2 separate regions of the Homo sapiens genome follow, and region 1 is linked to region 2. Evidence: fine-mapped expression QTL. A gene starts in region 2. The other region holds a variant in brackets. All regions are shown on one strand. Distances are from middle to middle.

Region 1 (2,890 bases), 57 kb before region 2:
CATTATAGGAAGGGGGGACGAGAGGAATGGGGGACAACCCACCACAAGGGCAATCCATGCCAGCTTCTCAAAGTCCCCCGTATTCCCTGCCTACCACCACCCCAGGTACGTTCATACCTGTGGGCATATCCAGGGGCTGCTGGTCACCCCCAGGTGTCTCTGGTTCCACTGCCCGTGTCTTATAGGGTGCGGTATTAACCATTCCAAAACTCCTCTGGAAACTAGGATCCAGCAGGGTCACTGGAAGCTACCCCAAATCCTGATCCCGGCAACATCTCTGTGGGCAGTCAGCTTCCGCACTCCCCTCCCCCCATTGCTGGAGGCTCTGCCATGCACCCTAGCAGAACAGGGAGGCTTTGTGCCAACGACCTGCCTGGTAGCTCCTTGGGGTCTGGTGGATGTCAGACCTGCAGCTGCGGTTGCAGCCTAGAAAGCTTCCTCAGAACCTCCTTTGCCTACTCCAAACCCCACACCTCCCACCACACAGGTCGTCCAAAATGTCTCTGAAATAGCTAAAGAAAACTATTTTCAATATCCAGGAGCAAACGAAAGAACAAACGCCAGAAAGGCGAAGAGGCAAAGTCACCCTATGGCGGTGGGGCGAGAGGGTGGGTGGGGAGCGAACAACCTCCAAACTTGCTCCTCGCCTGCCGGCACCGAGCGCAGAGCAAGCGGATCTCGGCCAGGCAGGCACCTCGAGGGCTCAGCCAAGTTGCAGGAAGCAAATGGCAACACCGGCGCATGGAGCCGCCTGGGCTGGATCAATGGCATCCGCGGCTGCAGGCTTGGGGAACGGGGTCGCGGTCTGCAAAGGGTCTGGGGGCGACGGACTTGGGGTCCCTCCGTCAGGGATCCACCCCGATGCGCCCTCCCAGCGGCCCTCCGATTCCGCCAAGGTCCTGCCCAGGCTCCTCGCACCAGCCAGGGTCCGGGGCGAAGCTCCGAACTCGGTTCGCACGACGGTACCTGGAGAGGAGGCTTTTTTCTAACCAACACGGAACCAAACACCCATCGGAAAAGTCCACCCCAAAGAAAACTGGCATGCAGCAGGAGAGCGGAGGGAAGCGGCCGGCGCTGCAGGGGTTTACCTTTTCTCTTTATTCTGCCTCCGGGATTTGTGCAGGAGTCCGATGAGCACCACGGCGGCGCGGATCCCCGCCTTTCGGCAATGCCTCCTCCCCGCGGGCTGGGACATGGCGAGGCCGCCCGCGGTGCCCGACCTCGCCCGCCCGCGTCCCCGCAGCCCCGGCTCCGCGCGCTCCGCACCCGGCCCCTGAGCCCGCGCCCCGGCCCCCGGCCTCCGCCTCGCATGGGCCCCGCCCCGCCTAGGTGCGCCCCGGGGGTCAGGTGACCGCGCGCTCTCCCCTCCCTCCCGGCGACCTTCAGCGTCTCCTCGGGGCCCGCGGGGCAGCCGCCGTCCGCTCCCCCGGCGCGGGCATTTCCGAGGCTCGCTCGGGGCGCGGCCCGGGCCGGCGGCTCCCGGCTCCCGCTCAGACGCGCCGCCCGCGCCGGGACCCGCCCCGGCCCCGCCTCCCGCGCCCCGGCCTCGGCCGCCCGGATGGTGGAGGACGCGGGGCACAGGGAGCGGGCGAAGCGCAGGAGGAGGCGGACAGCGCTCCCGGGACCCC[C/T]CTGCCCGGCTCCCAGGCGCCCTCCCCGGCCCCGGCCCTGCCTCCCCTCGCCCGCTCCTTCTGGTCCCCGCCCGCACTCCCGCCGGCGGCCCCGAGCTCCCTCCCCAGGCAGAGGCGGCTGCCGCCCTCCCCGGCCCGGCCCCGGATACTTCCCCGATGCTGTCACTGCTTTTAAAACAGAGGGAGAGAAAACAGGCACCAAGAGGAAACGCGCGTCCTCCTCCGTCCAAACGAAACTGCCCGCGCGCGGTCCCCGTCCCCTCCCGGCCGCCCAGCGCTTACAGGGGGCACCTGAGCCCGGCGCCCGCCCCGGCTCGCAGCTCCCGGGCCCGGGTCCCCGGGTGGGAGCTTGCGGATGGGAGGAACGAGGCGGAATTCTGCCCCCGCCTCCCCGCAGAGTCGGCGCAAGGATCGCCGAGCTGGGATGCAGAGTGGGCTGGGGTCGGCTCCCCGCGAACACTGGCTCTCCCGGCCCTGGGAGTTTGACTCCACATGGGTTCAATAACCAACTTCACGGCGACCCCGCTTCCTCCTGGCGGGCCGGGCGCCCCCCACTCCGCCCTCCCCGCGCCCACCCGGGCCTGGCCGCTGCGCACTCGTCGCGTGGTCCCTCCCGCCCCTGCCAGCCGCGCGCGAGCCTCATCTCCTTCGGAAAGGAAGGGCGGAAGGTCGGAAGGTCGGAAGGTCGCGCCGGCTCCTGGGGAAAGGGCTGTGGCCTGGTCCCTACCATCGGCGCGGGGCCTCGCTCACAATCGCCCTCATCCACTTCCAGGTGCTGCCCAGCCTCCCAGCCCCCTCCCGCCTCACCCCTCCGAAGCATCACTCACAGCTTTGCCCCTCTAGGGAAAAGGAAGTGGGCAGGGGGCTGAAAGGAATTAGAACAAGCCAATTAGTCCATCTTTGGGGCCGAAGAGGTTCCCCCTGAGGCAATTTGCCTTGTTTTTTGTTGTTGTTTTGTTTTTTGTTTTGTTTTTAATAGTCTGGTGTTCAAGCAAACACAGAAAATCCAGGCAGGGAGGGGACCATGCTGGGTGGAGAGGGGAGAGGGACTGCAAACGAATTCGAGGGCCTGAGGCTTCAGCCCTGCCTCTCCAATGCCCACAGCTTCCTGCTGGCACTGGAGTTGGGGTGGAGGGGAGGAAGCCCCAGGGTGGTTCTTAAATGCACCTGGTCTATTTATGAAGCAGCCGTTACCACTGGCCTTGTGCCCCCCACCCCCACCCCCACCCCCTCCCTGCCGGGGTTGTGGGGGATCAGAGATA
Region 2 (2,890 bases):
GGCGACCAGCCTTCCATCTGCTCCACACCTCCCAGAGAAAGGCGGGCCTTGGAGGGCACAATCTAATTGCTGGGCCCTGCCCTGCAAGGCCCACAGCCAAGACACACACACCCCTCCCAACCAGAAGCCAAGTCCTCTGCTGCCTCCCGGACACTGGCACCTACCCTCGGGGTGGCAGCTCCCAGATCCAGGCGTCAGGGAGGGCCCGAGAGCAGACACAGGCGACGCTGTGCCATCTTCTCATCCGCACCATCCCATCTGCCAAACATGGAGTGCCCACAGTCCCCCCCTGCCAGAGGATGGATGGCAAAGTGCTTTTGAAGAGGAGGAAGAGGGAAATAAGCCACACACACGGAAGCGAAAAATTACCGAGGAACACAGCCCCTCTCCCCCTCGCCCTTCGTGCCACCCCCATTAGTCCACCATTTTCCACACCGGGACACCCCCCGGCCACCTCCCGCGGGGCCCTCTCCCAGTCTGACAACGCCCCCAGCCCAGGCACTGAAAGGAAACCGATCATGAAAACCACCAGACTCTGTTCCCCAGCTGCGAAGAAGCTGCCAGCACTGGGAACCAGAGACAAGCCTTTGGCCTTCGTGTGCCTACCTTCTGCCCCCCGCCGGGAAGAAAAAGCACATCCCTCATCCCAGACAGAAGCTTAGAGGCAAGAGTGTCCAGAGGGCCAGGCAGGAGGCTGGGGACAGATGCAGCTGCTCAGGCTAGGACAGAGCTAGGGTGGGCTGCCTGGGGTGCAGGTGGGAGACCTTCTCTCACAACCCACCCCCAAGACAGCAGGCAGCCCAGAGGTCCAGCAGGTACAGACTCCCCTGCCACAAGGCCACAACAACAGCACAGACAGGAGCATCACACACACAAACACGCAGACACAAGCACACACAGACACAGAAGGCCAGAAGTGCAGACAGGCAGCTGCCCACATGCACAGGCACACACCTCACACACGGTCACACGGACTGGCAGTCACAGCCACACACACACGCCTGCACACACAGGCTCAAACGCGCACACACACACTTACACATAATCCCAGACACGCACACACATACATGGGAACCTGCGGACACAGAGACACACACATTCAACTGCAGTCACACTCATGCTATCCACCTCCCCACGGGCAGCCGGCGCAGACCTCCAGGATTCGCCAGCAGATTGTGCCCAGGGACAGTGGGGAAGGCTTACGGTCTCTGATGTCCCCACCAGGATCCTGCATCTCGACCTGCCAGGGCGTCAGCAGACCCAGCTCTCAGGCACAGCCCGAGCCCCTCTGTTCCCACGGCCGCCAATGCACTTAACAAGACTTCACTTCTAAGTTCTCTCCCATCATTCCCCCACCCTCCCACCTGTCACCCACCATCCGAAGCCCCCAAAGGAGACACTGCGCTTCCGGCCAAACATGGTTGTGGCTGCAGAGCCCGGGGTCCCAGCGATGTCCCAACGACGTCCCCGGGGCTGTCCGCAAGAGGGCCGTGGTACAGCGGGGTCAGTGCCGGTGCAGGGCGGGGAGCCCAGCGTGGCACCTCCCTCTTCGCCTGCCCCCAACCCGAGCTTCCTGTGGGTGAGGCTGCAGAGCTGGGAGGTGTGTCCTGCACTCCAGGAGGCACCAAGATAGGCCGAGGAGGTTGTGGAGGGCAGCTTCCCCACACCCAGAGGAACCCACAGCTCCGGAAGGGGCTCGGCTGGCAGATTGCTCCACAGCCCCAGTTAGCAGCCCGGCCCACACAGCCCCAGCTTCCTGGAACCCAAAGGCGCCCCAAGGATTCCCACAGCCACGCCTAGGAGGGACAGAAAGATTCAGCTGGAAGCCTCAGGGACGCCTGAGCACTGGGGACCTTCACACCCACTCCCGAGGGCTGCCTGAGACAGGGACCTTTGCCTGCCTGCCCCACCATGGCTCGGCACACGCCAGAGGAACCAGCCACACACATGTCATTCCACTAGCACACGTGGATGTAAGTATACATGCACACGCATGGGCACAGGGGCACGTGGGATGCACACATGGACACACACACGCCCAGGATACCCAGGTACACACAGATACATGCACGCAGACATACGTATCATTAGACACCTGTACACACCTGAGCACAGCGCGGCACACACGCTCCCGTGCACATCCACACACCACTTCACACAGGCATCAGTAGACACACCTGCACACGCTTCTCACATACTGACAAAGCCCCATTGGACACGTGCACAGACATGAACGCATACACATGTGCCCGCAGGCACTCATCCACATACTCAGACCACATCACACTGCAAGGGGCATTCGCATGTACACACACATGGGCACAGAGCTGTACCTGTCAGCCGCCCCCCACCCCCGCCGCCAAGTGTCTAGACAGAGGTCAGAGCAGTGGCATGCTTCACGCTGGCTGTGTGGGGTGGGGGGGCGGTACCCATGTGCGGGTGGATTTGTCTTCCCAGCTGAACCGCAGGGTTCGTCCTCATCTCTGCATGCTCAGGTGCTGGTCCTCATGCCACAGGGCTAGCGTGTCCTGCACGCATCCCAGTCTGCACACCACAGGGCCAGTGCTCATCTCTGCACGCACTGGTGCTGACCACACCTGGTACACAGCAGGCACTTACTAATGGCAGCCCCTCAAAGGGATGTGGCACGTACACTACAACAGACACTGGGGGGAGTGGGCACAGATAGGGCCCCAGGCCCCACCCTACCCCCAAGCAGTGGAGAAAGGGAAGAAAACGTCTCAAAAAAAAAAAAAGAAGAAGAAGAAAGGCCGGGTGTGGCGGCTCACACCTGTAATCCCAGCACTTTGGGAGGCCAACGCGGGTGGATCACCTGAGGTCAGGAGTTCGAGACCAGCCTGGCCAACATGGTGAAACCCCATCTCTACTA

What was found. PIP is the estimated chance that this variant, and not a neighbour inherited with it, causes the effect.
Region 1: its variant is fine-mapped to the expression of RAP1GAP2 in tibial artery (GTEx, PIP 0.97).

What each region holds. Positions count from the first base shown.
Region 1 is chr17:2,852,301-2,855,190 of GRCh38, reverse strand. The region is part of intron 2 of RAP1GAP2 (RAP1 GTPase activating protein 2); the gene reads right to left. Among named protein-coding and RNA genes, the nearest start is that of RAP1GAP2, 57 kb to the right of the region's middle. The variant C/T (reference allele first, on the strand shown) is at 1,629.
Region 2 is chr17:2,795,057-2,797,946 of GRCh38, reverse strand. It overlaps RAP1GAP2 (RAP1 GTPase activating protein 2), which reads right to left and starts at 1,509. Exons shown (of 25, transcript NM_015085.5): 1 at 1,376-1,509. The coding sequence starts at 1,419.